2 linked regions of the Homo sapiens genome follow. The protein of the gene in region 1 purifies or fractionates together with the protein of each later gene. This does not show direct contact. Each region holds a gene or a part of one and is shown in the gene's direction. Other genes may lie near its edges. The genes, in order: ANKK1 and PRR14L.

Evidence for each region.
Region 2: the proteins of ANKK1 (region 1) and PRR14L purify together in Homo sapiens (affinity purification with mass spectrometry; one large-scale study listed by BioGRID and IntAct). This does not show direct contact.

The regions. Positions count from the first base shown.
Region 1 is NC_000011.10:113,390,624-113,394,442, forward strand, and holds part of ANKK1 (ankyrin repeat and protein kinase domain-containing protein 1), read left to right. Parts: intron 1-2,857; coding exon 2,858-3,152; intron 3,153-3,819.
Region 2 is NC_000022.11:31,743,392-31,747,210, reverse strand, and holds part of PRR14L (protein PRR14L), read left to right. Parts: intron 1-3,819.

The DNA.
Region 1 (3,819 bases):
ACTCAGGAGGTTGAGATAGGAGAATTGCTTGAACCCAGGAGGCAGAGGTTGCAGTGAGCCAAGATCATGCCATTGCACTCCAGCCTGGGCAACAAAAGTGAGACTTGGTCTCAAAAAAAAAAAAAAACAAAGCAAAAAAAAGGCATGGAGGAGATGCATTCATTCCAAGCACTACGTGAAAAAAACAAAGTCCTTGCCCTCATGAAGCTTATAGTCTAAAGGAGGAAGACAAAATAAATAGCAAATGAATAATAAACTTTTTAGCTATAGCACTCATGACCACCTGACAGTTCTTGATTAAAATATCTAAGAAGGGTTGAGAAGTCTGATTTTCCAAGAAATGGGTTGGTCTAAAAATATTAATGCCAGGGCCCTCTGTGTATGGGGAATATAAGAGTTGGAATGGGGTTGCTTTTTTATGTAGACTTCTCTGTGAAATCCATACTAATTAGGTACCATTTGAGTAGAGATTTGAAGGAAATGAAGGGGTAATCCATGTGGCTCTGTTAGGGAGGAGTGTTCTAGGCAGAGAGAACAACAGGTGCAAAGGTCCTGAGGTGGGACCACACTGGGCATGGTGGAGGAACAGTGGGAAGCCCGTGTGCCAGGGGCACAATGAGAGGAGGGTGATTAGGAAAGGAGGTCAGCAAGCTATGCCTGGCATTGGGGACAAATCTTGTAGGACTTTCTCAGCCATGAAAGAACTTTGGCTTTTACTGTGAATGAGGAGAGCCATTGGAGAAGGGCAGTGACATGTTGTGACTTAGATTTTAAAATATGACTTTGGCTGCTGGGTTGAGAATAGATTGTGGAGAGGAAGCGGGAGAAACAGAGTCCAATTAGGAGGCTTGGGCTGAGATGCACCTTGGGGGAGAGGTGGTGAGAAGTGGTCAGCTTGTTGCTCGACAGTATTTTGAAGGTGGTGCTGGCAGGATTTGCGAAGACTTGGCTGTGGGAAGTGAGAGGAAGAAAGGAGTCGAAGATGACACCAGGGTCCTATTCTGAGGACTAGAAGGACAGAGGCCCCATTCACTGAAATGATGAAAACTAAAGGAAGAGCAGGTTTCAGGGGAAAATCAGGAGGTTAGCTTCAGACACATTTGGTATTGAATATCCAATTGGAGATGATGAGGTTGACTATAGAAAGATTATAGAGGGAGAAGAGCAGAGAAGAAGGGCTTGGACTAAGCCCCGTGGTCAAGTAACAGGATATGAGCCTGCAAAGAAAACAGAGAGGAAGTGACCAGACAAGTAGGAGAAAAGCAGGAGAATGTTGACACGTGGCTCAAGTAACGAAGTTTCAAGAAAAAGAGTCAGAGATCTGAACTATACACTGAGAACTGAAAATTATTGGTTAGATATAGCAACATAGAGGCTGTTGGTGACCTTAGCCACAGGTGTTCAGGGGAGTGCAGGTACCAGAAACTAGACAAAAGTGGGTGCAGCAAGATGATGAAGAGGAGAGACAGCAGTAAATGCTCTCAAGACTTCTGGGTAGGAAGCTATGAAAGAACTGTGCAAGGTAGTTACAATTATTCCCAGTTTTTAGTTTAGAAACTGAGGCCCAGAGGATTCCCTTGCCCAAGGTCATACAGATAATAACGGGTGAAACTGGGATTTGAAATCAGGGCAGTGTGATTCCCACATCCCATGCTTTTTTCCATGCCATGGCAGATGTCATTGGTTCCTGTGAACCCAAGAGGATGAGAGAAGACAGATTAAAAATATCACAGAGGTGGAGAAGGGATCTCTGGCACAAGTGAACAAGAATAGGAGAAACCTACACTAGCCAACATGTCCAGATGCCAGGAAGAGCATGTGGTTTTTCCTGAAGGTTGGGGCTCTCCAGCTGGCTTCCCAGGGAGACCCCGGGAGCACATTGCCAGCAGTCTCTGACTACAGCACCATCACAGTTTTGCAAATACTGTGCTCTCAAATATGTCATTTCTCCTTAATCCCCATCCCTGCAATCCCAAAATAATCTATAACAATTTTCATATTTACTGTTCTGTGGGCACATACAGTGAAATGAGCAACAGGGTTTGCAAATGCTTATTTTGTAAGGCCTTCCCTTAAGTTTCGACTTCTGTTCCAATTCAACAAAGATGTATTGTGCAATGCATGGCAATGCACTTTGGGAATTATAGAGATGAATAATTACAGTTCATCCATAAAATGGAATAGTGTGCAGCCACTAAAGATCATGCTTTGGAAGAACAGCAGTGTGGGGAAGTGCTCGTGCTCCACATACTATGTGATCCAAAAGGAGAGAGCAGAAAGAAGGAGTGAAAGAGAGGGAGAAAGGGAAAGAGATACCTTGAAGGTGGATAGTAAAAGGATATACTAAAATATCAACAGAGGCTAGCTCTGGAAGGTTGCATCCCTGGTAACTTATTTTTCTTTTATATAGCTCTCTATATTCCCTATGTTTCCTACAAGGTATATGTATTACTTCCATAATTTAAATGGTAATAAATGATGTTTTGAAGCAGAAGCATGAGGCATCATGTTGGTCCTCTGGGGGCTCAAAATCTACTAGGGGAGATAAACATAGAAACAAGCAACTAGAATAAAGGGCAAACTGTGATACCTGCTTTTTTGTGGCCACCTTTGCAGAATGGACTGGCTCCTAAACCTGCAAACTCCTTTACTTCCTGCCTTGTTGCTGCTGTACTGAAATCTAAGCGGCCTGCTAAGTATTGCTTCATGTCTCTCTTTCCTCTTCCACTACCTTGCAAGCTCCTGAGGCTTCTGTGGGTCCCCACAGTCTGGCATCATGGCTAGTTTATGTGTTCAGCTGGTTGCTGTAGTAATGAATGGGTCACCCCCTTCCATATCTTGCTCCCCCTCTCCATAGCTCTGATGTGAATTACCTCATTGAAGAAGCTGCCAAAATGAAGAAGATCAAGTTTCAGCACATCGTGTCTATCTACGGGGTGTGCAAGCAGCCCCTGGGTATTGTGATGGAGTTTATGGCCAACGGCTCCCTGGAGAAGGTGCTGTCCACCCACAGCCTCTGCTGGAAGCTCAGGTTCCGCATCATCCATGAGACCAGCTTGGCCATGAACTTCCTGCACAGCATTAAGCCGCCTCTGCTCCACCTGGACCTCAAGCCGGGCAACATACTCCTGGACAGCAACATGCATGTCAAAGTAAGGGCTCTGGCCAATCCTCCGCTCCCTTTCACTTGAGGGTTGCCTCCAGGTGAGCAGAATTATCCACCTGCCTGACCGGCCTGTCAAGGGTTTTAAGCAGTTCCCTTCATGGACAAATTCTAAAGGCAGGGATCACACTGCAATAGAGATGGCTAAGCAGTGAAATTTGGGGCATAAGGCTGGGTATCAGGATGCCTATAATAACCCTCTTTGGACTCAGTTTCCCATTTCTAAATTGGATAGAATAATCTCTATTTCCCTGCACTTTCTTTTATTTGGATGGAGACGTGTGTAAATGAGACAATCCCTAAGAAAGGTTGTAATGGACATTCTTTCACTTCCTAAAACTCTTTTTTGCCCCAGGACCTTTGCAGCTTCTGTTTCCCCACTCCCCTCTATTTACCTAGCGAAGGTCTACTCACTATTCAGCTTAACCATCACCTCCTCAGGGAGCTCTTCCCTGATCTACTCCAGTAGGTCCCCATTATATGCCTTCACTGTACCTCTGATTCTCCATATTACTAACCCCAACATAGGTATATAATCATTAGTGAAACACTTTCATTAATGACTGGACCCCCTATTTGAATAAGTATTTACGAGGATATGGAGTGTGTGTGTTGGCAGGGGGTGTCTCATTTTTCTTATCTGCTGCCCAGTCCTT
Region 2 (3,819 bases), on another chromosome or scaffold:
TGAACCTGGGAGGCAGAGGTTGCGGTGAGCCGAGATCATGCTGTTGCACTCCAGCCTGGGAAACAAGAGTGAAACTCTGTCTCAAAAAAAAAAGACTCCTGGGAGAGGGTCAGGCGCGGTGGCTCACACCTGTAATCCCAGCACTTTGGGAGGCCGAGGCGGGCGGATCACAAGGTCAGGAGATCAAGACCATCCTGGCTAACTCAGTGAAACCCCGTCTCTACTAAAAATAAAAAAAATAAAAAAATTAGCCAGGCGTGGTGGCGGGCACCTGTAGTCCCAGCTACTTGGGAGGCTGAGGCAGGAGAATGGCATGAACCCGGGAGGCAGAGCTTGCAGTGAGCCAAGATCGCGCCACTGCGCTCCAGCCTGAGCAACAGAGTGAGACTCCGTCTCAAAAAAAAAAAAAAAAAAAGACTGCTGGGAGAAGTATTTGTGCGTTTGCAAAGAAAGAACATGAAATAATTGTCCTCAACGTAAAAGAATTTCTACTTTTACTGGAATAATAATTTTCATACTTCCTGTAAGTATTAGTCAGTTTTTGGGAATAAATCCATTCCCTACACATTCTAATATAGTACTTATTTGTGTTGTGATAAAGACGACAAGCCAGTAGCAGCTGTCAAAAGTCGTTCATAAATCTATGGTTTATTTTTTGCTTATACCTCAAACTAGGTAATTATCTGGTATCCTCACCCAATAGGTTGATTATAAGTCATTAGCAAAGATTAAGCTGTAAATCCCTGTCTACATTTTATAAGCATGTGTTACTCACTCTTCCCTTTTACTTCACATTTAACACTTTAATGTAAAAGCATTGGTGGTTAAGGCAGAGAGCTGACAGCTGGAAAAATACTGATAAAACATACTGATAAAAAATACTGAAAATACACTTATCAGCTGTTTTTATTGCTGTGTGTTTAGATCTTGAGAAATAATGGTTAGACAACATTTTAACATATGTAATATATACTCACTGTTTTGAAAAATAAGTACAAGGCTGGGTGCAGCAGCTCACTCTGGGAGGCCGAGGTGGGAGGATCACTTGAGGCCAGGAGCTCAAGACCAGCCTGTGCAATGTAGTGAGACCTTGTCTCTACAAGAAATAAAAATATTTGCTGGGTTCACTGCCTCGCGCCTGTAGTCCTGGCTGCTTAGGAGGCTGAGGCAGGAGGATTGCTTGAGTCCAGAGTTTGAAGTTATAGAGAGCTGTGATCAAGCCACTGCATTCCAGCCTGGGCCACAGAGACCCTATCTCCAAAAAAAAAAGTTCAACATACAGATAAGTCATTGGTGATCCTATTGTCCAAGGTAACACTGTGATACTTGGCTTATATATATATATATATTTTTTTTTTTTTTTTTTTAAACTGAGTCTCCCTCTCACCCAGGCTGAAGTGCAATGGCGCGATCTCTGCTCGCTGCAACCTCTGCCTCCCAGGTTCAAGCGATTCTCGTGCCTTAGCCTCCCAAGTAGCTGAGATTACAGGCTCCTGCCACCACGCCCAGCTAATTTTTGCATTTTTTAGTAGAGATAGGGTTTCACCATGTTGGCCAGGCTGGTCTTGAACTCCTGACCTCAAGTGATCTACCCGCCTCAGCCTCCCAAAGTGCTGGTATTACAGGCATGAGCCACCACGCCCGGCTGTAGAGATGTATTTCTACATCATCCTTTTAGATTGCTCCATTGCATTCAGGAATTTAAAGAACTTGAATGTCTTCTCAAAATCGGGTTCTGTCACTGCAGTCTTGTGGCATTACCAATATTTTGATAGATGGTGTGAGCTACTGAGCTGAAAATAAGTTTATTTTTATTTTTTATTTTTTATTTTTTGAGACGGAGTCTCGCTCTGTCGCCCAGGCTGGAGTGCAGTGGCACAATCTCCGCTCACTGCAAACTCTGCCTCCCAGGTTCATGCCATTCTCCTGCCTCAGCCTCCCGAGTAGCTGGGACTACAGGCGCCCCTCACCACACCCGGCTAATTTTTTGTATTTTTAGTAGAGACAGGGTTTCACTGTGTTAGCCAGGATGGTCTCGATCTCCTGACCTCGTGATCCGCCTGCCTTGTCCTCCCAAAGTGCTGGGATTACAGGCGTGAGCCAAAGCACCCGGCCATGTTTAACCTGCCACTCTAGGCTTGCATTTAATATCACCTCACCTCTTAGGGTTCCAGCTGTTCTTGGTAACGTATCTGCAATTCTGTTCAGAAATTTGAGGACCCAGAATTAGTCCAGGAGAAAAAGGAGGGGGTGTCTGTTTTGGTTCTCTAGCCAATGTGCCTAGTTGTTTTACAGGTTGAAATTCTTAGAATTTGGTCCAAACAAGAGTATCAAGAGGTGAACCATTTTATGTGATTATCAGTATTCACTGTTTATGATAAAGATCTGTTTAGTAAACCTGTATTTGTGTATGACCGTATGTGGAGCAACATTTGGAACAAATGTTGAGCTAGAACTGTGGGGATGGAAATGAATATGATTTACTAGAAACACTGCAGGGAGTTGAGTCCACAGGCTGCAAGTGCTGATTGAATGGTGAGGGGAAGTCAGATATGGTTATGGCTGGGGATTCAAATCTAAGCTCTAGAATATTGATGGTGCCTTTTCTGAGAAGCAACAGGATTAAGAATCAGCATGTGGCTAGTCACAGTGGCTCACGCTTGTAATTCCAGCACTTTTGGGAGGCTGAGGTGGGAGGATTGCTTGAACCCAGGAGTTTGAGACCAGCCTGGGCAACATAACAAGACATACAAAATTATCTACAAAAATAAAAAAGTAGGCCGGGCATAGTGGCTCACGCCTGTAATCCCAGCACTTTGGGAGACCAAGGCGGACTGATCACCTGAGGTTGGGAGTTTGAGATCAGCCTGACCAACATAGAGAAACCCCATCTCTATTAAAAAATACAAAATTAGCTGGGTGTGGTGGCAAATGCCTGTAATCCCAGCTACTCAGGAGGCTGGGGCGGGAGAATCTCTTGAACCTGGGAGGTGGAGATTGTGGTGAGCTAAGATCGCACTGTTGCACTCCAGCCTGGGCAACAAGAGCGAAACTCCATCCCAAAAAAAAAAAAAAAATTAACCAGGCATGCTGAGGCAGAAGGAGTTCAAGGTTATAGTGAGCTATGATCGCACCACCACACTCCAGCCTGGGCGACACAGCAAGACCCTGTCTTTTTTTTTTTTTTTTTAATGAATGAGCATGTAAGTTTGCTGAGGGCGTCTTATTTATACCTGTTTCTCAAAGCTGTTTGCGTGTAGAAAGACTCAAAGACTCAGTTATTCAATAGATTGAATGAATTCTGTTTTAAACTTGGTAAGTTTTGGGGGTGCCATTCTTGCAAGTGAAATGTAGGTTAGGAATTGAAAGAAAGGTTGGGGTCAAGGTCAGGTTCTTTTTTTTTTTTTTCGAGGCAGGGTCTCACTGTGTCACCCAGTCTGGAGTGCAGTGGCCCCATCTCAGGTCACTGCAGCCTCCGCCTTCCAGGTTCAAGCGATTCTCCTGCCTCAGCCTCCCAAGTAGCTGGGATTACAGGCGTTCGCCAACATGCCCAGCTAATTTTTTGGATTTTTAGTAGAGACAGGGTTTCACCATGTTGGCCATTCTGGTCTGGAACTCCTGACCTCAAGTGATCCACCCACCTTGGCCTCCCAAAGTGCTGAGATTACAGGCTTGAGCCACCGCTCCCGGCCAGGTTCTTTTTTAAAAGAAATCATTTTTTTAAGATTTAATTCATATGCCATACAATTGACTGATTTAAATTGTACCAGTCAGTGGTTTTTGGTATAGTCACAGAGTTCTACAGCCATCACCATAATT